Linked DNA regions of Homo sapiens. The protein of the gene in region 3 purifies or fractionates together with the protein of the main gene of each other region. This does not show direct contact. Each region holds a gene or a part of one and is shown on either strand. Other genes may lie near its edges. The genes, in order: USP34, TTLL12, SRXN1, TTC1, TLE3 and SULT1A1.

Evidence for each region.
Region 1: the proteins of SRXN1 (region 3) and USP34 fractionate together in Homo sapiens (co-fractionation; one large-scale study listed by BioGRID). This does not show direct contact.
Region 2: the proteins of SRXN1 (region 3) and TTLL12 fractionate together in Homo sapiens (co-fractionation; one large-scale study listed by BioGRID). This does not show direct contact.
Region 4: the proteins of SRXN1 (region 3) and TTC1 fractionate together in Homo sapiens (co-fractionation; one large-scale study listed by BioGRID). This does not show direct contact.
Region 5: the proteins of SRXN1 (region 3) and TLE3 fractionate together in Homo sapiens (co-fractionation; one large-scale study listed by BioGRID). This does not show direct contact.
Region 6: the proteins of SRXN1 (region 3) and SULT1A1 fractionate together in Homo sapiens (co-fractionation; one large-scale study listed by BioGRID). This does not show direct contact.

Annotation. Positions count from the first base shown.
Region 1 is NC_000002.12:61,187,587-61,192,373, reverse strand, and holds part of USP34 (ubiquitin carboxyl-terminal hydrolase 34), read left to right. Parts: intron 1-1,715; coding exon 1,716-1,856; intron 1,857-1,959; coding exon 1,960-2,103; intron 2,104-3,304; coding exon 3,305-3,464; exon of another isoform or gene 3,465-3,664; coding exon 3,665-4,272; 3' UTR 4,273-4,787. UniProt on the Homo sapiens protein: Ubiquitin hydrolase that can remove conjugated ubiquitin from AXIN1 and AXIN2, thereby acting as a regulator of Wnt signaling pathway.
Region 2 is NC_000022.11:43,172,909-43,177,695, forward strand, and holds part of TTLL12 (tubulin--tyrosine ligase-like protein 12), read right to left. Parts: intron 3,489-4,787; coding exon 3,412-3,488; intron 1,708-3,411; coding exon 1,591-1,707; intron 1,496-1,590; coding exon 1,301-1,495; intron 919-1,300; coding exon 807-918; intron 1-806. UniProt on the Homo sapiens protein: Negatively regulates post-translational modifications of tubulin, including detyrosination of the C-terminus and polyglutamylation of glutamate residues. Also, indirectly promotes histone H4 trimethylation at 'Lys-20' (H4K20me3).
Region 3 is NC_000020.11:645,503-650,875, forward strand, and holds the end of SRXN1 (sulfiredoxin-1), read right to left. Parts: intron 3,416-5,373; coding exon 3,212-3,415; 3' UTR 1,113-3,211; downstream 1-1,112. UniProt on the Homo sapiens protein: Contributes to oxidative stress resistance by reducing cysteine-sulfinic acid formed under exposure to oxidants in the peroxiredoxins PRDX1, PRDX2, PRDX3 and PRDX4. Does not act on PRDX5 or PRDX6.
Region 4 is NC_000005.10:160,011,810-160,016,596, reverse strand, and holds part of TTC1 (tetratricopeptide repeat protein 1), read right to left. Parts: intron 1,939-4,787; exon of another isoform or gene 1-1,938.
Region 5 is NC_000015.10:70,062,547-70,067,333, forward strand, and holds part of TLE3 (transducin-like enhancer protein 3), read right to left. Parts: intron 3,673-4,787; coding exon 3,468-3,672; intron 1,925-3,467; coding exon 1,908-1,924; intron 1-1,907. UniProt on the Homo sapiens protein: Transcriptional corepressor that binds to a number of transcription factors. Inhibits the transcriptional activation mediated by CTNNB1 and TCF family members in Wnt signaling.
Region 6 is NC_000016.10:28,606,830-28,612,416, reverse strand, and holds the start of SULT1A1 (sulfotransferase 1A1), read left to right. Parts: upstream 1-2,372; 5' UTR 2,373-2,486; exon of another isoform or gene 2,487-3,557; 5' UTR 3,558-3,561; coding exon 3,562-3,709; intron 3,710-3,813; coding exon 3,814-3,939; intron 3,940-4,028; coding exon 4,029-4,126; intron 4,127-5,339; coding exon 5,340-5,466; intron 5,467-5,561; coding exon 5,562-5,587. UniProt on the Homo sapiens protein: Sulfotransferase that utilizes 3'-phospho-5'-adenylyl sulfate (PAPS) as sulfonate donor to catalyze the sulfate conjugation of a wide variety of acceptor molecules bearing a hydroxyl or an amine group.

The DNA.
Region 1 (4,787 bases), on a different chromosome or scaffold from region 3:
TAAAATTAAGTGGCTGCATAAATAATGCTTGTTAAGTTACAAAGGCAGAATTGGGAAGAGGAGGAGGTACTAATGTTTGGCTCATTCCTTGGATCAGGCATAAAGGATCCCCACTACCTTTCAGTCCCTGAAAAAACTGTTGATTGTACTGCCTGGTTGCATCTGCTCTACCCCATTGGAAGAGATGAATTTATTCACCTTCCTTAGGTGCAACCCTTGACCCACATCATGCTTTCCTGAAGTATTTTGAGTCTGGTTCAGCCTCCTACCAGGCTGTAGTGTGCTCTGGATTCTCCTAGATGTTTGCCATCCTGTACTCTACTGGTGGTTTCTCTACTTTTCCAAAACAGAACTCAAGTGTAGAGACCTTATCAGAGTCATCTCCATCCCCTGAAGAAATGCCACGTTGTTCTCTACAGTAGAAATCTTTCAGAGGCTAGTATACACTGATCTTAGCTCACTTGACTTAGCATACAGTAGGCATTCAGAAAATGACTTTTATCAGTTGATTTTTGAGCTGAGTGTTCTGTTCAGTCAATTGGAGATCTCGTTTTCCCTCTCCACTGCTACTGCTGTTCTTTTTCATTCTTCCTGATTTGGGTAGTTTCTTGGTTTCTGTACTCTCCCACTACCTATTGCTCCCTATTGCTTTCTCTACTTCTGCATCGCAGGACTCCCTTCGCTTGACTTCTTTCACAGACAGAACTCACTGTGCCCCCAAATTTCCCTTAAAACAAAGCCTAACCATATAAGGCCTCCAAAGCTTCCAGTGCTATAGAAGCAGCCATCCTGAGCAAGAAACAGAGGCAGAGGCACAGGCTGTGACTGGTAGACCAAGGCAGGTTTTTCCTAGTGTTAAGGATCTCAAGACCTGGGTCTTGGTCCTACTTGAATCCTAATTTCTTGACTGACCTTGAGTAATTTACTTATGACAGCTGCATACTTTAATAAGATATACACATATGCATATATATATATATATAATCTAAATTTTGTCCTATTTAAAAAATATATTGCTTTTTTCCATATAAATTATTAAAATGCACATTTAAATCTATGGAGTGTATCTGCTTAAAGACATACTACTTGTGTTTAAGAGCCATGACTATTTGAAAACAGGAAAACCAAATTTTAGTAAAATTTCCATATATTGAGACCACTGATTCTGTGTGAGATAATTAGGAAAGAAGATTTATTGTTTACCCTTGCAGTGTTTATGGGGGGAAAAGGTATTTACAGAATTACTGTTGCTAGCGAGAATATACAGTAAAGTTTAAAACATTTTGGAGAATTGATTTTGATTCTTAAAATGTGTCTTTTTGCAACATATGCTCTGGTTACCTATAAATACATTAATTTGGCCCTTGAAAACATTCACATCCTATTCTTTGTTAGCCTTATTTTTCCAGTCCTTGTTAACTCTCTCAGTGCTGGATAATAAACCTGCATTTCTTTTAAAACATTTGTTCAGTTTCGGCATCAGTGTCTTCCCCCAGCACTCCCTTAATCTAAATTAGTAACATTTTACTGTATGAAAAATAGTTGCTGTTAACTAAAAATTCAATAGGTGAGTTAGACATGGCTTTTCAAGTAGGATTTTCAGTGGCTTCAGATTCCATCATACACAAGTGTATGTTTTTTCTGTGTAAGTTTTTTCCGTGTAAGTTTTTTCCGTGCTCAACCGTAAGTGCTCAACCATCTTCTCCCCACTTTAGTCTGCTATGTCAAAAAACTGCATCAAGCTTTTGTGTGAAGATCCTGTTTTCGCAGAATATATTAAATGTATCCTAATGGATGAAAGAACTTTTTTAAACAACAACATTGTCTACACGTTCATGACACATTTCCTTCTAAAGGTACGTAGTACTTTGGAAACTCAGTGTGTCATTTCTAATTAGTTAATGCTTGTGGTTTCATTATGCTGGTCTTTTGGAGATTTTTTTAAATCTTCTTTTTCAGGTTCAAAGTCAAGTGTTTTCTGAAGCAAACTGTGCCAATTTGATCAGCACTCTTATTACAAACTTGATAAGCCAGTATCAGAACCTACAGTCTGATTTCTCCAACCGAGTTGAAATTTCCAAAGCAAGTGCTTCTTTAAATGGGGTAAGAACTATGCAGAGGCGGCGGCACACACTTTTAAACTGTCCTTCAGTTAACTGTGTGGCCTTCATATGATTTTACTCTCGTAACTTTAACTTACTGATTCAAACTCTTAAGCCATGTGCGACAAAAAAACAAGTTTTAAATACACGTTTACTATGCCTTGTATGTACACAGCACACTCTATCACCTTGGAAGCTACAAGCTGGTATCATTAAATGCTGAAAGGTAATAAAGGGAACATCTTAGTGGTCTTATCTCTAGTTGGGTATATTTTTGGAAACAATACTTGTGATGTTTCTATTACTGCCTATGGCTCCTATGTAACTGAAACAATTAATGATCTACTGATTTAAAAAAGGCAGTTAAATCTAGAGCATTAGTTGCCTTGTGCAGACTCCCATGACAGCCATGTCCTAGAATAATGGAACACTCTGGAAATGGGCTAGAATGTTGAGCAGCAGCCTCCCAAATCACAGTATGCATAAAAGCCAAAACAGATGACAGAGCTCAGTAAGGAAGACCTTACTATTTGTGACATCCATCAGAATTTTAACTTGAGAAACTGATTTCAAGGTTTGTTTTTAAAATTCTTATATTTCCTTTTCCATTTTTCAGAAAACACTATTTCAGGCTTTGGTCTGACTTACTGGTTCGTGGGCATAAAATAATGCTATTAGTGACTTTAAGAACTAATGAGGCTGGGCACGGTGGCTCATGCCTGCAATCCAAGCATTTTGGGAGGTCGAGGCCGGTGGATAACGAGGTCAGGAGATTGAGACCATCTCAATGGCCAACATGGTGAAACCCTGTCTCTACTAAAATAGAAAAAATTAAGCCAGGCGTGGTGGCGGGCGCCTGTAGTCCCAGCTACTTGGGAGGCTGAGGGAGGGGAATCGCTTGAACCCGGGTGGTGGAGGTTGCAGCGAGCCGAGATTACACCACTGCACTCCAGCCTTGCCAAAGAACAAGACTCCATCTCAAAAAAAACAAAAACAAAACAAAAAAAAAAAACAACTAATGAAATGCTGTAGTATCTTAACACTGGCTTTCTGGTTTTATCATTCTAAGAATCCCAGAGAAACCAGGGTATTCTTAGGAAAGAATGGATTCCTGGGAAAATAAACATCTGCAATTAACTGTAAACAACTGCATCAAAGTGTTGGCTTTAGAATTTGAAATGTTCCTATCTGGGTTTTTGTAGGACCTGAGGGCACTCGCTTTGCTCCTGTCAGTACACACTCCCAAACAGTTAAACCCAGCTCTAATTCCAACTCTGCAAGAGCTTTTAAGCAAATGCAGGACTTGTCTGCAACAGAGAAACTCACTCCAAGAGCAAGAAGCCAAAGAAAGAAAAACTAAAGGTTAGCTTTATGGACTACTATCATTACCTTTAGGGTGGGAGGAGGGAGTAATACACTTGGTGTAACTGGTTTAAGAGTTGTGTGTTCAGCTGAACCTCCTAAATATAAATGCTAGAAACAAAATTAACTTCCCACATCCCCCCCTAACGTGATCTTAATGACTTTCAGAGAAGTTTCCCTTTTGGCATGTGTTTTCACAGATGATGAAGGAGCAACTCCCATTAAAAGGCGGCGTGTTAGCAGTGATGAGGAGCACACTGTAGACAGCTGCATCAGTGACATGAAAACAGAAACCAGGGAGGTCCTGACCCCAACGAGCACTTCTGACAATGAGACCAGAGACTCCTCAATTATTGATCCAGGAACTGAGCAAGATCTTCCTTCCCCTGAAAATAGTTCTGTTAAAGAATACCGAATGGAAGTTCCATCTTCGTTTTCAGAAGACATGTCAAATATCAGGTCACAGCATGCAGAAGAACAGTCCAACAATGGTAGATATGACGATTGTAAAGAATTTAAAGACCTCCACTGTTCCAAGGATTCTACCCTAGCTGAGGAAGAATCTGAGTTCCCTTCTACTTCTATCTCTGCAGTTCTGTCTGACTTAGCTGACTTGAGAAGCTGTGATGGCCAAGCTTTGCCCTCCCAGGACCCTGAGGTTGCTTTATCTCTCAGTTGTGGCCATTCCAGAGGACTCTTTAGTCATATGCAGCAACATGACATTTTAGATACCCTGTGTAGGACCATTGAATCTACAATCCATGTCGTCACAAGGATATCTGGCAAAGGAAACCAAGCTGCTTCTTGACATTAGGTGTAGCATGTCTACTTTTAAGTCCCTCACCCCCAACCCCCATGCTGTTTGTATAAGTTTTGCTTATTTGTTTTTGTGCTTCAGTTTGTCCAGTGCTCTCTGCTTGAATGGCAAGATAGATTTATAGGCTTAATTCTTGGTCAGGCAGAACTCCAGATGAAAAAAACTTGCATCTTCAGTATACTTCCTAAAGGGCAATCAGATAATGGATATGTTTTATGTAATTAAGAGTTCACTTTAGTGGCTTTCATTTAATATGGCTGTCTGGGAAGAACAGGGTTGCCTAGCCCTGTACAATGTAATTTAAACTTACAGCATTTTTACTGTGTATGATATGGTGTCCTCTGTGCCAGTTTTGTACCTTATAGAGGCAGATTGCCTCCGATCGCTGTGGTTCTTATTATCAAAATTAAGTTTACTTGTATACGGAACAACCACAAGAAATTTGATTCTGTAAAGAATCCTCTTTAGCTGTGGCCTGGCAGTATATAAATGGTGCTTTATTTAAC
Region 2 (4,787 bases), on a different chromosome or scaffold from region 3:
GCTGGTTTCGAACTCTTGACCTCAGGTGATCCGCCCACCTTGGCCTCCCAAAGTGCTGGGATTACAGGTGTGAGCCACCGCACCCTGAAGCAAAGTCTTTATATCCATTTTTAATTGAAATGAAATATAAATTCTCACCCATAATTCCATCCACCCCCATCCCATGGCCTGAAGTCTCCACGACAATCGTCCTCATGATGCATTTCCCGCCAGCCTCTGACTATGTACACAGTCCAGGCAGATCCTGTGTCCTGCAATCCCAATACTGCTTCTGGATGTCCCCTCACTATGAATCTTTACCACGGCTCTGAGAGGCTCCTTGTCCAGGCTCAGCCACCTCACCCTGCTGGGCAGCCATACCTGGCACACTATGTGGTAGGAACTTTGCGATTAGACGCACCCAGGACAGTTCTTTTTTTAAAGACTGGGTCTTGCTCTGTCGCCCAGGGCGGAGTGCAGTGACGCGATCACAGCTCACTGCAGCCTCAACCTCCCGGGCTCAAGTGATCCTCCTGCCTTAGCCTCCTGAGAAGCTGGGACTACAGGTGTGTGCCAACATGCCCAGATAATTTTTAAAGTTTTTTCCCTTGTAGAAACGAGGTCTCCCTATGTTGCTCAGGTTGGTTCCAAACTTCTGGGCTCAAGTGATCCTCCTCCACTTCCCAGAGTGCTGAGATTACAGGTGTAAGCCACCCTGCCCAGCCTGGACCTGTCCATAAGGACCATGATGCTCGGTCCCCTTAGCCCCACCTCTCACTGTCCAGCCAGGGCCCTGAGCCCTGGGGCTCCTGGTCTGCGGGGCCCACCTTGGGGGTGCTCTCTCGGTGCCGGATGATGCTGTGCAGGCTCTTGGTGACGTGGGTGTCCAGGCTGCGCGCCAGGTTCCAGGGCTTGCAGATCCAGTGGTTGTCCTCGCCCCTGGGGAGCAGAAGGGCTGTCTGGGGGGCGCCTGGGGCCTGTGTTCCCAGATGGTGCCACCCCAGGACCCAGAGGCAGAAGAGGGCAGCCCACTTCTCCTTGGGAGCTGAGGGGGCACCAGAGAGCTGTCAGAGGCAGGGGCATGGGAAACAAGGAGGGGTTTGCCAGAGGCCAGGCAGCTGCGCTGCGGTGGAGAGGACAGCCCCAGCAAAAACCTGGAGAGGTCCTGCGGTCCGTGAAGACGGCCGTGACGTTCGGGGCCCACAGCTCGGCTCCTGCACCACGGTTTCCACAGTGGGTGCTCATGGAGGAGCAGGCGGACACAGACGCTGGGCCGGGGAAAAGGGCCATGGAGCACACCGATGCCGTGTCTGGGACTTACCACCTTTCCCGCTGCTGGAAGTAGCTGACAAACTGGGGCAGCTCAGTGCGCAGGTTGAAGGTTCGGGGCAGCCAGGGTGGGCCCTCGGGGCCACCTGCCCGGCGCGCGATGGAGGCCAGGCAGTCCTTGACAGTCAGCAGGTTCTCGCAGGGGAACTGGTTCAGCAGCACGCCTGGCCTCTCCTGGCTGAGTTTCCTGCAGGGCGGAGGCAGGTGCGCCAGCTCAAGGGGAGGCCGGCAGTGCCTAGAAGCCCTGACTGGGAGGGCCCCTGCGGCCAGAGGTGCCCTCACCTGTAGTCCTTGAAGTGTGAGAAGTTGAAGAGGATGTCGGCGTCCGCCTCACTCTGGGTGAGGGTGAAGCGCGGGTGGGTGAGGCTGCTGGCCACCTGCTGCACGTCCGTGTAGACCCTGTGGGGAGAGCCCGAGCTGGGTGATCCCGGCTCCCAAGTGTCCAAGCGGGACTCCAGCACTAGCCCTGGCTCAGGGACTCCCTTCCCTGTTTTGAAGCTAATGAGGCAGAGGCAAGTCCTGGGTTCGAGTCATGATGCTGGACAGCCCGGGTTCAGACCCCGCTCCCTCCAATCTGCTGAGGGAGGGGCGCAACCTGTACCCTTGTGACCCCTGGTTCCCCATCCGCAGGACTGGACCACACCGTCCACCTCACATTTGTCATTAAAATTAAATGGCATAATTTGGGTGTTTATTATGTGCTAGTTCTTTCCTCTCACATGCAAAACAAGAGGATGAGGCTGGGGCCACCAATCTCAGACAGGCACACCAAGGGCCTCCGTGAGGCCTCTGCCCCAGAGGAGGTGGAGGGACCTTAGGCCCTGGCCAGGTCACCACAAGACTCACGTCTCAGCAAGAGCCCCTGGGCTGCCCAGCTGGGGCAGAGGCCAGCAGGGAGGAAAGCCCTCAGGCCCGGTGGAGGGGGCAGAGTGGAGCAGCCTGCCTGTTCTTGGCTAGACCAGGTTTGGGCAGCCAAGGGGAGTGTCTGGGAGCCTCAGGGAGGGGCTCCTGTGAAGGCTGAGGTGGAATCTGCTCTGCATCTCTGGGTCCTCACCTGTGCCTGCTTCTGCAAGGTGTCCCGCCTGGACCTGCCGGCCTGGCTTTCCTTAACTCAACAGCCACACCTGCAGCCTCCTGGGAGGGGCCCCTACTGGCAGCCCGGGTGCCTGTTGTGGGTGCCCAGCATGTTCCTGGCCAGCAAAGGCTCCCTGCTGTGGGGAGGGCTGGCATGCACAGGCCTGGCTAGTGTCGGTTTCCAGGACTGGATGAGCATCGTATCCAGGTAAGCGGAGCAGCCCCATGACATGCAAGGTTGGTAACAGGACCCCTTGGTGCCCAGAGGACAGGGGTGGGATGGGGACCAGTGGTGGCCAACGCTTCTGCCCAGGGGGCCCTTTACCCACTCACTGCCAGCATTTCCATGGCCTATTCCTATTTTTAACTTTCAAAGATGAATTTATTTTATTTTTTTTTAAGGAGTCTTGCTCTGTAGCCCAGGCTGGAGTGCAGTGGCCCGATCTCAGTTCACTGCAGGCTCTGCCTCCCAGGTTTCAAGTGATTCTTCTTCCTCCTTGGCCTCCCGAGTAGCTGTGATTACAGGCGCCAGCCACCATGCCCTACTAATTTTTTTTTTTTTTTTTTTTGTATTTTTAGTAGAGACGGGCTTTCACCATGCTGGCCAGGCTGGTGTTGAACTCCCGATCTCAGGCGATCTGCCTGGTTTGGCCTCCCAAAGTGCTGGGATTACAGGCATGAACCACTATGCCTGGCCTCATAGGTGAGGTGTGAAACCTGGGAGGTGGAGGTTGCAGTGAGCTTAGATCGTGCCACTGCACTCCAGCCTGGGTGACAGAGACAGACTCTGTCTCAAAAAAAAAAAAATCTCCAGAAAGCCCTGCTCGCTCTCTCACTTTCTGCGGCATTTTCTCTGGGGTCCCAAGAACTCCACTCCCTGCACGTGTCACTGCTGTGCCCAGACAGGATGCGGCTGACTTGCTGCGTGCCACGTGCCAAGCACTGTTCTGGGGCTGTGGGAACCACGAAGCATGGGAGGCGGGGACTGCGGACAAGTCCCAGCCCAAGCAGTGGGGGGGGGCTACGCACTTGAAGATGTGGCCGTGGGGGTGCACCACGGGGTTGATGTCAAGTGGCAGCTTCTCCTTGTTTTCCTCCAGAATGGCCTAAAAGGAAACACACCGGAAGTAGAGATGAGGTCAAGGAAGGGAGGGAAAGGCCGGCCGTGGTGGCTCATGTCCATAATCCCAGCACTTTGAGAGGGTGAGGCAGGTGGATCACGTGATGTCAGGAGCTCGAGACCAGCCTGGCCAACATGGCAAAATCCCCACTCTACTAAGAATATAAAAATTAGCCAGGCATGGTGGCGCGTGCCTGTAATTCCAGCTACTCGGGAGGCTGAGGCAGGAGAATCGCTTGAACCCGGGAGGCGGAGGTTGTAGTGAGCCGAGATTGCGCCACTGCACTCCAGCCTGGGAGAGAGTGTGAGACTACATCTCAAAAAAAAAAAAAAAAAAAAAAAAGGAAAAGAAGGAGGGGACACAAGCCTCACCACCTGGCATCAGGTTCTATGGCCTCAAGGGGCGCATGGCTGCTCCTCCCTCCCAACACCCCAAAGCCTCTAACCACCCCCCTCACCCCAGGATTCTGGGGCTCCAGGCCCCTCGGATGCCGAACAGTCCTAGTTTGGTGTCAAAAGAACAAGGTAAACATTGTTGCACATCTTCTCGGTGCTACCTCAAAATCGCAGGGGGCGAGAAGGTGCCAAACCCCTCCTGAGAGGAGCCGCTTTGTCCTAGGAGCCACGAGGGCTGTCGGGAGCTTCTGCAGTGTGATGATTTAAAACATGCCCACGTGGCTGCACATGGTGGCTCAAGCCAGTAATCCCTGCACTTTGGGAAGCTGAGGTGGAGGAGTACCTGAGCCCAGGTGTGTAGGACCAGCCTGGGCAACATAGTGAGACCCCGTCTCTACAGAAAAGTTGAATAATTAGCGGGGCTTGGTAGCAGTTGCCTGGAATCCCAGCTACTCGGGAGGCTGAGGCAGGAGGATTGCCTGAGCCCAGGAATTGGAAATGGCAGTTAGCTAGGATCATGCCACTGTACTCTAGCCTGGACAAAAGCAAGACCCTATCTTTTTTAAAAAATTAAAAAAAAAAAAAGATTAAAACATGCCTACAAACTCTTTGACACTATCTTCCAAAGGCAGAGCCGCATCCATCTCTGAGGGTGGGATGGGCCTAATGAGTTGCTTCTAATGAGCAGGAAAAAGGTGGAAGGGACAGGGTTGCTTCTGCAACAAGGCCATGAAGCCTGAGGCTTCCTCTCTGCTCTCTCCCTCGGATCACTTGCTCTGGGAGAAATCAGGTGCCACATCCTGAGGACACCTGAGCACTCTTATGGAGAGGCCCACAAGGCAGGGAGCCCAGGCCTGCTGCCAACAGTCAGCACCAACACAGCAGGCAT
Region 3 (5,373 bases):
GGTTACAGAACAAGAGCTGATAAATAGAACCTGAACTCCAGACTCATCCCGGCTGAACCCGGGTTAACTATCCCGCCTCTTTCAGCCCTGCGCGTGCATCCAGCCCCTTCCCACAGCTGTAGCTCTTGCAGGCCAGAGGGACGGCCCTGCCGCGGGGGCCGGAGAGCAGCGCCACCTGCTGCTGTAAGAGGGAAACGCAACTTCCGGCTACCAGCAGGTTACACCCTTTAAAACCCAGCTCCTCTTCCTTAAATGATCAAGCAGTACCCCTCTACTCCGAATCTGTTCTGCACCTCCTTCGCAGTGCCTGGCAGGGCCCTTAGCGCTGTCTGGTTGGGTCTTCTCTGCAAGAAGGAAAAGTTGTTTCAGGAGGGGGCGACCATCTTCACTCTCATTCCAGCCCAGCGGGCACAGGAGGAGTTTACTCACAGAAGACAGGGGCACCTCACCTTCGCTACAAACCTTAGGGGTACACAATCCATTTGACAGCCTGGAAGAAGTCCCCAGGGAAGGGACAGAACCGCCCAAGGTCACACAGTTAATGAGTAGACAAGCTGGGGGGAATGAGTAGACTCATTCCACTGGGGATGGAAGTGGGGAAGTCACCGTATTTGAAAATAACTGACGCAGTTATTAGCAGCTCTTAGCATGTGGTCCCTGAACAGCAGCATCAGCAACATCTGGGAACTTGTTAGAAAAGCAAATTATCAGGCCCTGCCCCAACTCGCCTCAATCAGAAACTCTGGGGGGCCGGGGGCAGTGGCCATGTCTGTAATCCCAGCACTTTGGGAAGCTGAGGCGGGAGAATCGCTTGTGCCCAGGAGTTTAGGACCAGCCCAGAGAACACAGCAAAACCCTGTCTCTACAAAAAAATGAGAAGGGCGCACCTGTAGTCCCAGCTACTCAGGAGGTTGACGTGGGAGGATCACTTAAGCCCCGGGAGGTCAAGGCTGCAGTGAGTCATGATCGTGCCACTGCACTCCAGCCTGGGTGACAGGGCATGACCCTGTCTCAAAAAAAAAAGAAAGTGGGGGTGGGGCCCAGCAATCTGGTATTTAGCAAACAAGCTTGAGACCCTGAACCATTGGTCTAAAGGAATTGCACACCCCCCCTTTTTTTTTTTAAATTAAATAAACTTTTATTTTGGAATGATACTAGATTTACAGAGAAGTTGCAGAGATAGTACAAAGAGTTCCTGTATACCCTTCACCCAGCCTACCCCAAGGTCAACATCTTACATCACCATGGTACATCTGTCAAAACCAAGAGACTGAAATTGGTATATTAACTAAAATTCAGACTTTTTTCAGATTTCCAATTTTCCCACTAATGTCCTGTTTTTGTTCCAAGACCCAATCCAGGATGCCACATTGCACTGAAGACACTCTCCCTTTTCAATTCTATTACTGGTCACCTCAGTCAACTTTCCCGGGGAAAGAGAATGCATGGGAAAAGCTCTTGTCCTTATTATTGAACTGGAGAAACTGAGGCTTAAAAGTGCCGAGTGACCAAGTTCCCTTAGAGGGCAGTGAGAACAAGGCCTGCCTTACTCTGTTCCCTTTCCCCAGGGACTCTTGGTTTTCAGAAGCCCCTCTGGAATGTCCTACCTGGCCTAACCCCATACCAGCAGTGCAGACAAGGAGGCACTCCTACTACAGTGGGTCCAGCCCATGGAGAGACTCACTTCCTGCCCCAACACCTCTTCCCCTAGACCCTGAGGGCCAGGACAATGTCTTAGTGCCTTCCAACTTGGCAGAGTGAGGCCCCATGAGACAGAGAGAAAGGGGGAAGAGGGAAATACCTTTATCCAAATAAATACCCATCCAAAATTATTTGTGATAGGTGAAAAATGGCCACAAGCTCTTTGTGGTTCCCCTCATCAAGACATGTAGTCTGTTTCTCATCCCTTGAATCTGGGTAAAGCCTTGTGATTTGCTCTGACCAAAAGAACTTAGCAGAAGTGACACTGTCCTAGTCCCAGTTCCAGGCCAAGAACTCAAGAAGTCTTTCAGCTTCTACTCTCACTCTCTTTGGAATCCTGAAGCCATCATGTGAATAAGCCTGAGCTAGCCTGCTGGAGAGGCCACATGGAGGAGAACCAAGCAATTCCAGCCAACAGCCTGTCACCTGCCAGGCAAGTGAGTAAGGCTATCCTAGACCATCCAGGCCCAGCTGAGGTAACAGCTGACCTTAGCTCCATGAGGGATCCCAGGTGTGAGCAGCAGAACTGCCCTGTTGAGCCCAGCCCAAATTGCCAACCCATAGGATTGTGGGAAAATACAGGGTTTGTTTCTAGCTGCCAAGTTTGGGGATGGTTTGTTACACAGCAAAAGCTAACTGGTACACAATTCTGCATTTCTCTCTTGGTAATGGGATCCCAGTTTTATTGCAGGAGGCAGTGTGCCAGTCTCAGTAGATGGAACACGATTGGTCTATTCAGCCATGACAATTCTGTTCCCTGCTGTCTTAGCTTTGTTTGCAGCTAGAGGTGCAATGGTAGCTGGCTCGGGCCAAGGGCATCTAAGTGAAGATATGCAGAGGGAGAGAGCAGGAAACAGACTTCTGACGAGGTTTTACTTTCTGATAGAAGGTGACGGGTCCAGCTAGTTTGGCCCTTCCTCTTCCTCCACCCCTCCTTCCTTGAACGCAGACATGATTCTTGGGGATACAGCAGCCATCTTGGGACCATGAAGTAACGAGCACTGAGATTAAGGCAAAAGGATCCAAGACGTGACCCCTACCTTCGTGGAGTTGTTGAACCAATACCATTAGCCACCCATCTCCAGAATCCATGCTATGTGGAAAAACAATCTTCTGTTTGTTTAAACCACTGCAATCAAGGTTTTCCTTTCCTTGCAGCTGAATGTAGTCCATATAAGAGGTTACATAGACAAAAATGCAGAGGGATCCTTGTCCTTGGGAATTTGGAGCCGGCAGCACGTGGCTCTTCAAGCCCATCTCTGTTCTCCTTCTCGGTAATGCTTCAAGGGTAAGGCCATGATCCTATTGTCACAGAGGTGGGAACTGGGGCTCCCACACTGTACAGTGAGTCCAAGGCCTTGTAGCTGGTGAGAGGGGTGCCCAGAGTCAGACCCTCTCGCCAGGTGCAAAGAGAATGCACCCCTGCTATCCCTTCTGCATGGCCCAGCCTGCTGGAGGCCAGGTGTGTCTTCTGGGCTCTTGAAGGTGGCAGCAGGTGCCAAGGAGGCTGCTACTGCAAGTCTGGTGTGGATGCTCCCAGGTACACCCTTAGGTCTGAGAGAGTGGACTGGACAAGCTTGGCGGGGATGGTCTCTCGCTGCAGTTGCTGGTAGGCCGCGTAGCGGTGGCAGCCCCCAAAGGAGTAGAAGTAGTCACCTCCCTGGGCCCCTTTGATCCAGAGGACATCGATGGGGGGCACGCTGTCTGGGTCCTCCTGGGGAGAAGAGGCACAGAGTCAATGGACATGGTACAAGGCTTGAGAGTTTGTAAAGCAGACTTTGTCCACTTGTGCTGAGCTCCTTATAAGGTGATCACACTGGACTACTGTGAGAGACAACTGTTAATTATCAGGAATTTTGTGAGCTGTTCGACATCACCTTGTAGCTTGAAAATCAGCCATGGGAGAGTATTTACACCAGAGAAATGGACAGATGCTACAAATCAGGGATTTCTCCCACACATGTATCAGCACACCACATGCACACTATCCAGCTGGCCCTGTTGTAGACCCTGGGAATACGGTACAGCTGGAATGTGACTGAATCAGGCCCTGGCTTCAAGGGGCTCCAGTCTAGTGGGGCAGATGGAACAAGAAGTAAATATTAGAGTGACAAATGCTATAATGACAATAACACAGGTGACAGGACAGAGATGGGGTCCACGAGGCCTCTCTGAGGTAAGAATGAAGCAGAGTACTTGGAAAGATAGAGAAGTGGGGCCGGGCACGGTGGCTCATGCCTGTAATCCCAGAACTTTGGGAGGCCGAGGCGGGTGGATCACCTGAGGTCAGGAGTTTGAGACCAGCCTGGCCAAAATGGCACAACCCTGTCTCTACTAAAAATACAAAAATTAGCTGGGCATGGTGGTGTATGCCTGTAATCACAGTTACTCAGGAGGCTGAGGCAGGAGAATCACTTGAACCCAGGAGGCGGAGGTTGCAGTGAGCTGAGATCGCACCATTGCACTCCAGCCTCGGCGATGGAACGAGAATCCATCTCAAAAAAAAAAAAAAAAGAGAGAAGTGGAATAGTTTCGATTAAGAGCTCAACTGCCTGGGTTCAAATCTAGCTCTGCTGCTTAACAGCTATGTGATCTTGGGCAATTCATCTTTTTGTGCCTCAGTTGCCCCATCTATCAAATTGGATGGAGATAACAGATCCATCTCATAGAATTTTTGGGTTAAATGGGTTAATATATATAAAGCACTTCAAACCATGCTTGGCACACGGAAAGTGCTCAGTAATGTATGCTGTGTATGACCTGAGGGAAGAACGTTCCATGCAAAGGGAACAGCAAACGCAAAGGACTTGAAACCAGAGCACGTTCACTGTGTAGGAGGCACAGCAAGGAGTTCACTAGAGTGGACTCCAGGGCTCCAGGAATGGTCAGAAAGGCCAGCAGGAGCCAGATGGTGCAGGTCTGCTTCTGAGAGCAGTGGGTGGGCCCTGGAGTGTTGGCAACAGGGGAGGGTGACATGATCTGATGCATGTTCTAGAAAGTTGTCACAGGAGAACAGACTTGGCAGGGTGGACAGGGCACAGGGCTGGAAGGCAGAGGGGAGGCCTCTGCAGGTATTCAGCAGAAGATGCTGGTCTGGATGATGGTGTGGTGGGGACAGGGAGAGGTAGACAGGTTTGGGACACATTTACGGGGCAGGCCCAAGGGGTCTGGCAGAAGGGGTGAATCCAAGGGCAAGAGAAAAGGGAGAATCTAAGTTGACTTCCTGTTAGGGGCCCACACAGCCAGGTGGAGAGTAGGTCATCCTCTAAACAGGGAAAGTCTGGGGCAGGACGGGTGCAGGGTAGAGCACTCTGGGGAGACCCCATTAAGTGTGAGCGGCGTGGAAGGCCTCCTGCTGCTGGTCCACGGGTTCTCTCTCATGATTCCACAAATGATTATTCAGCAGTAAGGTGCAGCAGTCACAAGCCTGAGCTCTGGAACCTGGCACACCTGACTTTGGATCTCAGCTCCTCTCCACAGCAGCTGGGGCACACAGCCCTCTGAACACCATTCCTCACCTGTAAACTGGGAATAAAACATCCTAGAGGGCTGCTGATGAAGAGTCAGTGAGCTGATGCCTACCGGGCATTAGTGGAGCACTAAGGAGGGCAGCCGTGCCAGGCAGGCCTTGTGCCGGGTACTGGAGGCACGATGGTGGATGGCCAGAATGAT
Region 4 (4,787 bases), on a different chromosome or scaffold from region 3:
CCTAATAATCATACCTCTCAAAGTTACTTACTGCTTATACTTTGGTGTATATCCTTCAAATTTGTATGTATAAACATATTTTCACATAGCCTTAAAAGAAATCATCACTGTTGTATAACCTGATTAATTAATTTGACATTATATTACAGGCAGCTTCCCAGGTCAATACCTACGATTCATCTTTTTAAAAAAATTTTTTAAATTATTTATTTATTTATTGAGACAGAGTCTCATTCTGTCACCCAGGCTGGAGTGCAGTGGCGTGATCTCGGCTCTCTGCAACCTCCGCCTCCTAGGTTCAAGCAATTCTCGTGCCTCAGCCTTCTAAGTAGCTGGGACTATAGGTGTGCACCGCCATACCTGGCTAATTTTTGTATTTTTAGTAGAGATGGGGTTTCACCATGTTGGCCAGGCTGGTCTTGAATTCCTGGTCTTGAGTGGTCTGCCCACCTTGGCCTCCCAAAGTGCTGGGATTATAGGCATGAGCCACTGCACCCGGCCAAGATTTACCTTTAACAACTGCATTGTATACTACATAAATATAACAACAAAATTTAAGTAATACTCTGGGAAGAACACATTTTTCTCTCCTACTATACCCTCCCAATAGGTCTGACACCAGATGAGAGTGTTTTCCACACTAAACAATTCTCCAATGGACACCAACGGAGTGTCCTATAATTCAATTCAGTTCTGTCACTATCTCCAGGTAGACAGTGTCTGATCCCACAGGTTAAGAGTTTAGTCTCATAAGCCTGGCCCCACTTCAGACACTAATCACAAGTCCCAGGTTGTGACCTATGATTCCGACTGAATGGTTAGCACAGGGTTCTTACCACCCTCTCTGTGGGTTCAATAATTTGCTAGAATGGCTCACAGAACTCTGGGAAACACTTTACTTACACTTAGTAGTTTATTACAAAGGACATTATGAATGATATAGAACAGCCAGGTGAAGAGACACACAGGGAAAGGTAGAGGGAGAAGGGGTGCAGAGCTGCCACGCCCTCTCTGGGTGCTACCCTCTTAACACTTCCATGTGCTCATCAACCTGGAAGCTCATCAGATTTCTAGTTCAAGAGTTTTTATAGGCCAGGCGCAGCAGCTCACACCTGTAATCCTAGCACTGTGGGAAGCTGAGATGGGAATATTGCTTGAGTCCAGGAGTTCGAGACCAGCCTGGGCAACATAGTAAGACTTCATTTCAAACACAAAAAAATTTAGCAAGGTGTGGTGGAAGGCGCCTGTGGTCCCAGCCACTTGGGACATTGATGTAGGAGGATTGCTTGAGCCCAGGAGGTTGAAGCCTCCAGTGAACTATGATCGCACCTCTGCACTCCAGCCTGGGCAACAGAGCGAGACTTGGCTCAAAACACAAGAAGAAAAAAGCTTTAATGGAGCTTAATCTCCAGCACTTGCCCTCCTCCTTTCCTGGATTTTGGTAGGTGGTGCCAAAAGTTCCAACCCTCTAAAACTCTAATCACTTAGTCTTTTTGGTGACTGGCCCCATCCTTCCTTAGGCTATAGATAGGCCAGATCCTAAAAGTTATCTCATTAGGATGAACTCAGGTGTTATCAAAAGGGGTACATTAAGAATAACAAAAAAATACACTACACTATCAGAAAATTCCAAGGGTTCTAGTGGCTCTGTAACAGGAACCAGGGACAAAGACCAAATAAATTTACTATACTACAAATACCCTGTTTAACATTGTCTAGCTTTCCAAAATTATGAATGATGCTGCAACACATCTATGTATATACATTTGTGTATATTTCTAATAATTTCCTTGAAATAAATGGCTACAAGAGAATCAGCGTTAATGCTGTCATGTCCAATATGGTACTTACTAGCCACATGTGACGATTTTAAAATTATTTATTTATTCATTTTGAGACAAGGTCTCACTCTGTTGCACAGGCTGGGGTGCAGTGGCGTGATCATGGCTCACTGCAGCCTTGACTTCCCAGGCTCCAGGGATCCTCCCACCTCAGCCTCCTGAGTGGTGGGGCTACAGGCTTGTGCCACACGTGATTATTTTTATTTTTAAAGGCTTTTTAAAAAATTTTAATTAAAAAAAAATTTTTTTTTTTTTGGAAAGACAGGGTCTCACTATGTTGCCCAGGCTGGTCTCAAACTCCTGGGCTCAAGTGATCCTCCAGCCTCAGCCTCCCAAGTGCTGGGATTATAGGAATGAGCCACTATGCCTGGCCCATGTGACTATTTATTTATTTTCTGAGACGGAGTTTTGCTCTTGTCTCCCAGGCTGGAGTGCAATGGCCCAATCTCGGCTCACTGCAACCTCGACCTCCTGGGTTCAAGCAATTCTCCTGCCTCATCCTCCTGAGTAGTTGCGATTACAGGAGCCCGCCACCAGGCCTGGCTAATTTTTTAATTTTTGGTAGAGATGGGGTTTCACTATGTTGGCCAGGCTGGTCTCGGGTCGAACTCCTGACCTTAGGTGATCTGCCTGCCTCAGCCTCCCAGAGTGCTGGGATTATAGGTGTGAGCCATCCCGTATGACTATTTAAATTAATTACAATAAAATTCAGTTCCTCAGCCGTAATAGCCACATTTCAAGTGCTCAATAGCCTGATGTAGTCAGCAGCTACCATACTGCATGGTGCAGGATGTAGAACATTCCTATCCTTGTAGAAGAGTCTATTGATAGCCCTATCTAAAGAAATGGTCACATAAAAATTTGGTATCTGCATCCCATGAAGTGACATAACAATTTAAATTCTCAATATTAGTATATGAGTTCCAACATCCTCTCCTTGTCAACATCAGATCAATATTCTGATCTGATAGATGAGACATAATGTTTTAGTTAGTATTTTTTTTTTTTTTTTTGAGACAGAGTCTTGCTCTGTCACCCAGGCTGGAGTGCAGAGGCCTGATCTCAGCTCACTATAACCTCCATCTCCCAGGTTCAAGCGATTCTCCTGCCGCAGCCTCCCAAGTAGCTGGGATTACAGGCGCACACCACCACGTCCAGTTAATTTTTGTATTTTTAGTAGAGATGGGGTTCCATCATGTTGGTCAGGCTGGTCTCGAATTCCTGACCTCATGATCCGCCCGCCTCAGCCTCCCAAAGTGCTAGGATTACAGGCATGAGCCACCACGCCCAGCCTGTACTTTTCATCATTATTAATGAGGCTGAGTCTTTTCACATTTTTTGGCCATTTTTTTTTTTTAGTCATTGTTGAACTATCTGAACTTTATTTTAAAAGATTCAAATATAACACTATCCTGTTTCTGATGAGCTATTAAAGCCAAACCATATATGTAGAAGACATTTCTTCAATCTGTTTCGCTGGCTTCTTGAAAATTTTGGAAAGATATTTATCAAAATAGCATACAAACACCTAATAAGAGTAGTACCACAGTTAGCTGAAGGCAATCTGCACTCTTATAGGTTGTTTCCTTAAAGTAGAGTCAGTGGCTTACATTTCTCTAAATAATAAGACTAGCACTGCAGTATGTTACTGTTATGAGATATTCTTACAAATTTTCAAATTAGCTATGAAAACACTTAGACTGATATATAAATGAATAGAAAATATTTATGTTTTAAACATGAATACTACTGTATGATTATGTTTATATGAATGTCTGGAACAGGAAAAAACCACCTATGGGACAGGAATCAGAAGAGTGGTTAACCAGAGACTGGCAGGGTTGGGAAAGGAATGACTGATAAAGCACACAAATGGAGTTTCTGACATGATGGAAATGTTCTCTATCTTGATAGAAACGTGAACTATGCAGGTGTATACAATTGTCAAACTCACTGCATTCTACACATGAGAACTGATATACAGTTTCACTAAATTATATCTCAATTTTTAAAAGGAGGAAAAAAGTGAAAAAAAGTATTGTTCTACTTAGAATATTAAACTTACAGGCAATAAAAATAATTATCCTCACTGGGTGTGGTGGTTCACGCCTGTAATCCCAGCACTTTGGGAGGCCAAAGTGGGAGGACTGCTTGAGCCCAGGAGTTGGAGACCAGCCTTGGCAACATGGTGAGACACTGTCTCTACCAAAAAACCCACAAAAATTAGCCAGGCAGGGTGGTGCAAGCCTGTTGTCCCAGGTGCTCAGGAGGCTGAGGTGGGAGGATCCACTTGAGCCCAGGAGGTTGAAACTGCAGTGAGCCGTGATCACATCACTGCACTCCAGCCTGGATGACACAGTGAGATCCTGTCTTAAAAAAAAAAAAAATCATAAAAGTATTTATAGAACTTAAAGTATGATTTTCTGGCCTAGGAGACACAAAAAAAGTTTTACTAAATTAGAGGTAGGGATCAGACTTTGTGACACCTTGAGCCAAACCATTCAACTGTCAAATCCAGAGGGCACTAGAAAATTAATATAATTTCAGGGCAAAATATATTAAGGTATCAGAAAAGCACTACTAACTTTTTAACATAGATGCATAATCAGTGTTTCTAAAAAGCCTGAAACCTGTTATAATGTTATGGAACAGTAGTTAATTTTTTTGAGCTGTATTTGCTGTGGTAGTTTATGAACTTGGCTCACTTTTGCCCTTTTTCCTCCTGTTCTGGTGGTGCACACTAGCACAAAAACGAACACGTTCACATTAAAGCTAACTGATTTGATAATGAAAAGCGTCTAAGGAGAGAGAAAGAGAAGATGCTCCTACCCACCCCAGGCTACCTTCCCACCCCCACTGTTAGGCTTAGGCTGAACATTTATTATCTCATCTCAATACCAATGTATCACAACCTGTTCAGTGAGTGAGCTCCTTAGTGGCATAAAC
Region 5 (4,787 bases), on a different chromosome or scaffold from region 3:
GCAGGCGGCCAAAAAACTAAGTATTTTTTATTGCTTCGGCTAGGCAAGGAAATATGAATGAAGCTACCACTAATTGGACTCCAGACTAACCCCTCTGGGACAGCTTCCAGCCCGTCCCCCCATCCCCCCTCCCACTCTGACACAGCCCTGTCCTTCCTGCCGTAGGCCTCATCTGTTGACAACCTGGTTTCCAAAGCCTGATTATTTCAGTCTACACCGCCGCTGACACCGTCACCACGCCACATGCCATGCGCACAGCCTCGGCCCTGCCCACTGCTGCCTCTGCCCAGCATCTTGATTCATTCCCACTGGAGTTTCCTGAGGCCCATGTGTGCCATGCATGGACCTCAGCGAGCATGGTAAACAGCCCAGCTCTTGGGGGTTCCCAGGGGGGGTCTTTTAGCAGAAAACTTTCACAGATGGGGCACAAAGCCAGAAGCCAATAGGGATGAGGATGAGGTAAAGACTCATGCTCTTTAGAGAGTGCTGGGCTTCCCACTCCCCCTCCAATTCCACTGAAGTGGGTCCCTGCTAGCCAGGTAATCTGGATCCTCAGTCAGGTTATAAAGGGTCTTCCGAAACAAAGCTGAGAGGTTGGTCAAGCAGGAATTATTCCCATGGTATGGATAAGGAAACTGAGGCTCAGAGAGGCCAAGAGAACTACACAGGGCCTCATAAAGCTGGGACCAGACCTCAGCCTTAAAATGTCCAATCCAGGCCTCCGCCTATCTAGGCAAACTGCCTCTCCGAAAAAATGCCACTGTTAGAGGATCAGTACCGAGGCAGTGAACATGGATTTTCAGCTTCAATGACTCCTCTCTTAGGTACCTAGCCATTCCTCAGCCCAAATGTGGTCCTGGATTTCTGAGCATGTAGGCGGGTCAAGAGGCCACGGACGCCAGCCTCACTGCTAATGGGAGGTTTAAAAAGTCAGCCTGGGTAGGGGGAGGGCCAGGAAGGGAAGGAGGGCTGGATTGGAGAGAGCTGCGCAAGGAAGCTGCTGTCTAGATGGTTAGTTAACTGCCTGACCTTCCAAGTCCTACTTAACACGAGGTAATAACCAAAGCCATCCTAACAGATTAGATGGCCCCAGATACAAGGACAGCGATGAGGAATAAAATAGCTTTGCTAATCGCTGGAGGATTTTTTTTATCCAGACTCCACTGCGCTTATTCAGAAGGCTTATTCACTTGAAACAGAACCTCGGAGCCTCAGTGTGATCAGAAAGATTTACAACAAATCTCAGAGCTGGCAGACACGCAGGCGGCCTGGCCTTAATGCTCGCCTGCTAGCACTTTCTTAAATCGAGTGAAAGCCCAGAGCAGGGAGAAACTGCAGGCGTTTGAAGGGAATGAGGAGGATGCAAGATCATACAGGAGGCATCCTAGCAGGGGGGTGGTAAAAACCTTGGCCCTGAACATGGGACACCTGGGTCCTTAGCCCTGGGTTTAGCCCAGAGACTCCACAAAGCCCCTCGCAATGGAAGATCCAGGGCTGGTCAGCTGACCTCTCAGAGTATCACCTCTCATATGAAACGGAGTTAGAGCTCATTTAGCCCAAGCTCTTCATTTGACAAATGGCAGACCTAAAGCCTGGAGAGAGGAAGGGCTTCCACAACTGAAGGTCACTCTCAACAGGTGACGACAGCAGCTCCCATTTTATGACAGTAGCTACCCCTCACCCTGCCACTGGCTCTGGACTAAGACATCAGCACTGAAGCTCCCAGCTCAGCAAGAGTAAACAAACAACAAAATCCCTAGTTACAACCCACAGAGCAGAAGCGGGAACCCAGAAGCCAGCTTTGGATACCGACTGACTGGTCTCAGGCCCGCGATTCTGGGAGCCCCGAGTCCCACCTCCTCCCAGCACCCAAACACCCCTCCGGGTTCCAGAGTGCCAACACTTACCGCACTGGATTCTCTCTCTTTGGGGAAAGAAGGCCAGGACAGGAGGAAGGTCAGGCACCCCAAAACAAAAAGACAAAAAAGAAAGGAAAAAGGTCAGTCTAAGTCCAGCTGGCTTTTGTGATTTGCTAGTGCACTGGTTTTAAAATGAGCAGAAGGCCTGGATTGCTGTCTCCGTGGATCAGCCAAGGCAGGGCCATTAGGTGGCGTTTCTCGGTTTGGAAATTTGCCACCCAAATTCCAATGCTGCCCCCACCCCTCTAGTCCCCAGGGTGGGCAAGGGAGGCCCAGTCCCCAGGGTGGGGAGGGTAGGCCTTTGACCCAGTTCTCCCTGTCATGCCAGAGGGCACCAAGTTTACTCTTTAGCAGGCTAGGGGTCTTAAGATCACAAGCTTGAGAAGGATCATGCCATATAAAATACCAGTAGGACCTGGGAGTTAAGAACTTTATTGTTAAAAAAAAAAAAAAAAAAAGGAATTTAACAGTGGTTTAATTTTGTTTTTGAAATTAACACCATTCTGTGATTCTTTGTCAGGATGCCCCTAAAAGCTGAAGCCTCTGAAACTGTGCCCAGCTAAGCACTAGCTCCCCAGTTCTCCTGTCTGCTATGGAGAGGCCCCTCTTCCTCTGCCAAAAGGACCATCCTACTGTAAGACAAAAAAATGTAGCCTCCAGTTCCCTGGACCGGCTACCACCCTGTGGCCTGGGCCAAGGCAGGATGGTGACATTCCAGGTCCCTAGTGCTCAGAAGGTGTTGGCTACGTGCCCCAGTAAATACCGTATCTAAGGGCAGAGTGCATTTGGCACCAATTTTTGAAAAGGGCCTCCCAGGGAGCCAGGCTTTTCTCTTTTCTGATCCAATGAACCACTCCTGAGGCCAAGCTCGGTGCAGCTTCATGGGTCCTCATGGTAGGGGCTGCAGAGAGGGTCAGAGAACAAGTTCTGACTCCAAGTCTATGTGATCTCTTGCTGGGGTGTGCACTACCCCCACTTACAGGCAGTCAGCTAACAAACCTTTACCTGAGCACTGACTGTGCACCTTTCCCAGGTTTCTGCATTGGTGAGACATAGATGTAAGGAAAACACCCAAGAACTTGGCACCTGTCCTAGGGAACTAATGATCGTGGTGAGCACAAGACATTTTCCAGGGGTAGGATGTAAGACGACAGTAACAAGGACTCAACTTTGGCATCCCAACTCTTAAACTCTTACAGGAACTTGAAAAAGCCCCTAGTCTGACCAGGAAGGCATCCTGAAGGGTTGGACTGGGGCTGGCCCCTGAAGGACAGGCAAGGGTGTTGTAGGAAGATGGGAGCGAGCTCCAGATGAACAGACAGGGTCTTCAGGACAGAGAATACCAGGTCCACACCAAGGAGTAGGAAAAGGTGCATGGGATGCGGATGGCATTGGCTTCCCTGCACCAGGTATCAACAGATGACTCCAAATCCTTGGTAACTCCTGGTCTTAGGACGACAGCACTTGCTGGGTCCACTCACTGTGAGGCCTATGAGCGCCCATGCCCACCCCTGCCCCGCCCCACCCTCTGCCCCAGCCCAGCCGCACCTCTGTGATCGAGTTCATGGTGGTTCTTCTCATCCTTCACCGTCAGATGGGCCTGGCTGCCCAGGGCGCCCAGTGCCAGCAGCCCGGAGCTGCTCCCTGTCACTGGGGGGATTCCTGGAGGCTGGAGACCTGACGGGTGGGGTGGCAACTGGACCGGGGGGCCGTGTGTGGCATGGGAGAGGTGCTGCGCCTGGAGCTGCTGCTGCTGCAATGAAGTCGGTGGTGAGTACAGCTGAGTTGGGGAGGGCAGGGGAGGCGTGGCCACCTCAGGAGGGAGGGAGGGAGTGGCTCTTCCCATTCCTCTTGCTCCTTCACTGGGTGGGTGGCAGGGGGAAGCACCCCCAAAACCTTTGCCCCCAGCTCAGTTCACATGAATGTCTCGCTGAAGGAAGTCTGTTAATAGACTGTAATGTAAAGATTTATGTCTTCAAGCACCCCCCAACTCCCTGCACCCCCGTTTCACAAATAATTTCTCAATGTTTGTTTCCAAGCCTGAGATAAAGAATGCATGCATTTAAAAAACCGCAGAGTCATGGGGTTCCCTCTGAGTAGAGAGGGATCCATTTTTAAGCTCACAGCCCTGGCAGTGTTTGCTCATGCATACATGCCTTCAGCATTAGCTGCCAGCATCTTCCACCCTGAGGCTGGACCCTGGGGAAGGCTCCTTATTTCTTAGGAACTCCAAGCCTGCCTTACAGAGCAGGGGCAGGGCAGGTCATCACAGCAAAGGCCCCAGAGCCAGATGAGCTGGGGGCCAGTGGAATGAGAGCTAACGTCACCGGACATCAGTGGTGGAAAACGGGGTAACTGGAAGAGTGGAGGCTTTGGAACTAGACAGAACAGGATTGAAATCCCAGCTCTGGCACTTCCTAGCTGTGTGGCCTGGGGCAGGTTACTTCAAGTCCTGGAGCCTCAAATTTCCTTATCTGTAAAGGGGGAAAGCAGCAGACCCCAGAGGATTATTGTAAGATAATGTTTGCAGCAGCTCATGGCGCACAGCTACTAAGCCTCATGGCAGTAGCTAACATTTACAAAGAGTTTAAAATGGATTGCTGAACCCTTCTAAAAACTTGCCATGCAGCAAGTCAGTATTATCAACAACAATGCAATTCTCCCTGTCTCCTCCCCAGTCAAGGACTCCGCTGCCCTGGCTCCAGAGGCCCAACTTCCCCACTCAACACTAGCCTCAGGGGCTTGGGCTTCTCTTTCCTCTCCCTTCGCCCCACCCAACTTCTTCTCCACTACTGAAAGAGAAGTTAGGTATGCTGGTATCCACCTATGCACACATCTTTCTTCTCAACTAGTGCAAGAGAAGAAAAC
Region 6 (5,587 bases), on a different chromosome or scaffold from region 3:
CCGGGGCAGCCGTGTCCTGATCTTGGTATTCAGGGCTGAGCCTGGAGGGGGCTTGTGATGCCTGACTCTGTCTCTCTCTCTGGCCCCATGCCTTGGTAGCTGTGAGGCGTCACTGCTTTGGGTGACCTGATCTGGCTGTGATGGATGAGCACGGGGGAAATAGTGGAAGACTCGGAATTAGAAGACGTGAGTGGGCTTTGGCCCCAGCCTCCCTACCCCACTCCCTGTCCTGGGCTGCCTGTGACCAACCTTGTTTCTGCAGGCACACTGGATAGCCCTGCTGGAGCTCAGTGTCCCTAATCCCCTCCAGATACTGGTGGCCTAGGGGAGGTCATCAAAGACCGGTGGGACATCGACCTCAGCCCGTTTCCACGCTTTTTTTTGTTTTGTTTTGTTTTTTTGAGACCGAGTTTCACTCTTGTTGCCCAGGCTGGAGTGCAATGGCGTGATCTTGGCTCACCGCAACCTCCGCCTCCCGGGTTCAAGCGATTCTCCTGCCTCAGCCTCCCAAGTAGCTGGGATTACAGGCGTGTGCCACCAGGCTTGACTAATTTTCTATTTTTAGTAGAGACAAGGTTTCTCCATGTTGGTCAGGCTGGTCTCAAACTCCCGACTTCAGGTGGTCTGCCTGCCTCGGCCTCCCAAAGTGCTGGGATTACAGGAGTGAGCCACCGTGCCAGGCCTTCTCCAGGCTCTTGGCACCTTAGCCAGAAACAATTTAAGGACAAGTGCAAAAGTCATGAATGTAGGCAGATTTCCTGCAGAGTAAAGGGACTCACTGAAGAAGAGGAACGTGGGGGTCCTCAAGAGAGTGTCTCATGCCCTACAAGGTGTGGGGCTGACCTTTATGGGCTTCTTCAACTAAAGAGGGGTATATTCATGAAGAGTCCAGGAAAAGGTAAAGATTTCTCAAGACCGTGGTGCCACAATTTACACCCAAATACAGGTGTTCCTGGAGCCGTCTTGGCACTGGTGGGTGTACGGTTTCATATGTTACTGATCATACAATGAGATCCTAGGTGAAACCTACATCAAATACAGCGCCATGTTGTGTCTGGTTGGTCGTAGCCAGCTTGGTCCTCATCCTATTTTTCAGGGACTTATTGGCCCTTAGCGCATGCAGCTATTTCAAGTTTCCTTCTTCTCCTCATGTGAAACTGCTGCCTGGGATTTTGTATTCACTTGCTACCACTCTATTAATCTCACATTCTCGCCTCTTTTCTGTGTCACCCCGTGTGGGTCCGACAGGTTGTTACTAGAGTGCAATACAAAGTCTTAGTCAAGGGAACCTCCTGAGGGTTGCTGAGGGCAGGGGTGGAGCTAGTAGCCTGAGGACCTGCCAGTCACGGGGATTCCTCATGGGCACAGAGGAGGGAGGAGGGGTCCATGGCCCTAGCATATGAGAAGCCTCTCCTCTGCCTGGAATTCCCATGCCTCAGCTTCCCCCACACTCCCACCTGTCCGCTTGCCTCTGAACTCACGCATTTCTTGGAAGTCTTGGGAGATTCACCTTTACTCAGATGGTTGTTTACCTGTCTCGTGCACAGCTTGACCTTGGACTTTAAAGTGAGGATAAAGAACGAGGAGGATGGGGGGATGCCCCCCTTCCACGGGGCCCTGTGGCTTCCAAACCTCGGCCTCCTCTGGTCTCTTGTCTGTGGAGCCTCCTTCAAACCCAGGGAAATAAAACCACCTGCCACGGGTTGTGGTTCTTCTAGGATCTTCTATCAATGTTCTCTGAGGTCCCCAGGAGCCATGAAGCTGGGGCTGACTCCCAGGGCAATGGGACTGCAGTGTCCTTGTTCTTTCTTGTTCTATGCATCCATGCTCTGCTCCACCCCTGCCCCTTCACTCTGCCCACACACATCCCTCTAGACTGGCCTTGTGGTCAGAGCCTGGAGTGCATGGGCTGCTGGGGGCCTGTGGGCTGCACTGGGCCAGAACCCCTGGCACCTTCAAGACTGGCCTGGAGCCAGCAGGTAGGTGACCTTTCCAGGGCCTGCCTATCCCAGCTTTCTCCTCCAATCCCTCCCCTCTCTTGCCTGGGTCAATTAGAGAGAGCTTGTCTGTTGGCTGCCTGGCAGGGTGGAGTTCAGGGGCAGGTCAGGAGCCCAGTGACAGCTCGGAAAAAAAAAAAAAAAAAAAAAAAAAACAGAAAAAAAAAACCTACAAAAACAAACCCACCATTGGGCCTTTCCCCTTTCATTCTTCTGTTTTCTACACAGCAAACTCAGTCGTGGCTTTGGAGATCACTTTAAGCTTGTCTCCAGCTGGCACACTAAGGAGGGTAATGGAGAAGCTCCCCCACCCCCAACCCCACCCCTTCCTTCCGGAAGCAAATCTAAGTCCAGCCCCGGCTCCAGATCCCTCCCACAGTGGACCTAGGAAACCCTCAGCTCAGAGAACAACCCTGCATTCCCCACACAACACCCACAATCAGCCACTGCGGGCGAGGAGGGCACGAGGCCAGGTTCCCAAGAGCTCAGGTGAGTGACACAGTGGAACGGCCCAGGGCGCCCTCACCCTGCTCAGCTTGTGGCTCTAACATTCCAGAAGCTGAGGCCTCTGGCATCCCTGCCCTTTCCCCATGGATATCCCATTTCAGACAACCCTGGCCTGCGTGAATCCCCCTCCCTTCCCTTGTTTGTTTGTTTTTTTCCCCGGGGAGGCCAGGTCTTGCTGTCACCCAGGCTGGAGTGCTGTGGGATCCTGGCCACTGCAGCCTTGAATTCCTGGGCTCAAGTGATTCTCTTGCCTCAGCCTCTGGAGTAGCTAGGACTACAGGCCCTCATCATCCTGCCTGGTTAATGTTTAAGAATTTTTTTAAAGATTTTTAGAGATGGGGTCTTGCAATGCTGCACCAGGTTGGTCTCCAACTCCTGGCCTCAGCCTCCCTAGGGTCTGGGATTATAGGTGGGAGCCACCCTGCCTAGGCCTGTGCTTTTGCTGAGTCATCAGAGTTTTGTTCATTCCCACAGCAGCTCTGGCCCCTAGTAGCAGCTCAGTTCCTCAATGGGCCGTGTTTGTCCTGGAGCCCAGATGGACTGTGGCCAGGCAAGTGGATCACAGGCCTGGCTGGCCTGGGCGGTTTCCACATGTGAGGGGCTGAGGGGCTCAAGGAGGGGAGCATCTCCACTGGGTGGAGGCTGGGGGTCCCAGCAGGAAGTGGTGAGACAAAGGGCGCTGGCTGGCAGGGAGACAGCACAGGAAGGTCCTAGAGCTTCCTCAGTGCAGCTGGACTCTCCTGGAGACCTTCACACACCCTGACATCTGGGCCTTGCCCGACGAGGGTGCTTTCACTGGTCTGCACCATGGCCCAGGCCCTGGGATTTTGAACAGCTCCGCAGGTGAATGAAAGGTGAGGCCAGGCTGGGGAACCACCGCATTAGAGCCCGACCTGGTTTTCAGCCCCAGCCCCGCCACTGAGTGGCTTTGTGAGTGCGGGCAAGTCACTCAGCCTCCCTAGGCCTCAGTGACTTCCCTGAAAGCAAGAATTCCACTTTCTTGCTGTTGTGATGGTGGTAAGGGAACGGGCCTGGCTCTGGCCCCTGACGCAGGAACATGGAGCTGATCCAGGACACCTCCCGCCCGCCACTGGAGTACGTGAAGGGGGTCCCGCTCATCAAGTACTTTGCAGAGGCACTGGGGCCCCTGCAGAGCTTCCAGGCCCGGCCTGATGACCTGCTCATCAGCACCTACCCCAAGTCCGGTAAGTGAGGAGGGCCACCCACCCTCTCCCAGGTGGCAGTCCCCACCTTGGCCAGCGAGGTCGTGCCCTCAGCCTGCTCACCTCCCATCTCCCTCCCTCTCCAGGCACTACCTGGGTAAGCCAGATTCTGGACATGATCTACCAGGGTGGTGACCTGGAGAAGTGTCACCGAGCTCCCATCTTCATGCGGGTGCCCTTCCTTGAGTTCAAAGCCCCAGGGATTCCCTCAGGTGTGTGAGTGTGTCCTGGGTGCAAGGGGAGTGGAGGAAGACAGGGCTGGGGCTTCAGCTCACCAGACCTTCCCTGACCCACTGCTCAGGGATGGAGACTCTGAAAGACACACCGGCCCCACGACTCCTGAAGACACACCTGCCCCTGGCTCTGCTCCCCCAGACTCTGTTGGATCAGAAGGTCAAGGTGAGGCAGGGCACAGTGTTTCACATCCATAATCCCAGCACTTTGGGAGGCTGAGGCAGGCAGATCACCTGAGGTTGGGAGTTTGAGAGCACCCTGAGCAACATAGAAGAACCTTGTCTCTACTAAAAATACAAAATTAGCCGGGTGTGGTGGCGGGTGCCTGTAATCCCAGCTACTCCGAAGCCTGAGACAGGAGAATCACTTGAACCCGGGAGAAGGAGGTTGTGGTGAGCCAGAGATCCCACCATTGCATTCCAGCCTGAGCAACAAGAGCAAAACTCACAAAAATAAATAAATAAATAAATATATAAATAAAAATAAAACTGTGGCACCTGTGGTGGCTCACTGCTGTAATGCCAGCACTTTGGGAGGCCAAATTGGGTGGATCACTTGAGCTCAGGAGTTACAGACCAGCCCGGGAAACATGGGGAGTCTCCATCTCTATAAAAATGCAAAATATCAGCAGGGCATGGTGGCATAGCGCTGTAGTTCCAGCTACTGGAAAGTCTGAGGTTGGAGGATTGCTTGAGCCTGGAAGGTCAAGGTTGCAGTGAGTTATTATCACTCCAGTGCACTCCAACTTGGGCGACAGAAAAAAAGAAAGACCACGGTCCTTTTTTTTTTTTTTTTTTTTTTGAGACTCTCTGTCTCAAAAATAAATAAATAAAATAAAATAAAATAAAATAAATCCCACAATAAAAAGAAAAAGCAAAGGTCCAGGTGTGGGGCATGTGAATCCAGGGAAGGAGGCCCTGGCTCAGCCCAGCTTTGGTCCTGTTCTTCTGGGAAAGTCGCCTCACTTCCTCCAGCCTTGTCTCATCTTCTGCGGCGGGGACTGTCTGCCTCTTGCTCTGATGACCAAGAACGTAAGACTCTTCAGTGTAGACCTAAGAAAGCTAGAGGGTGGGTCCTCACAGGCCCACAAAATTTGGTGGCGGTGGGATCACGGCTGGTGGAGCATGCCTTGCTCCAGATTGGGGTGTGACGCATTGATGCAGATTATATTACTATAGAATATGATGGTCTCAGGGACCAGGCAGGACTTTGGCTTCTGAGCAGGGTTCAGCTCCTGACTTGGCCCTACCGGTGCCGTGAGATCTCAAACAAGTCAGCCTCTAAGCCTCAGGTTCCTCCTTTGCCAATCCAAGAGATGAGCTGGCCTGGGACAGGCTGTGTGGTGATGGTGCTGGGGTTGAGTCTTCTGCCCCTGCAGGTGGTCTATGTTGCCCGCAACGCAAAGGATGTGGCAGTTTCCTACTACCACTTCTACCACATGGCCAAGGTGCACCCTGAGCCTGGGACCTGGGACAGCTTCCTGGAGAAGTTCATGGTCGGAGAAGGTGGGTTTGATGGGAGGAAGGAAAGTGTGGAGCTAAGGGGTGGTGGCTACAACGCACAGCAACCCTGTGTTGGCACCCCTTGCCTGCTTCTCCAGTGTCCTACGGATCCTGGTACCAGCAC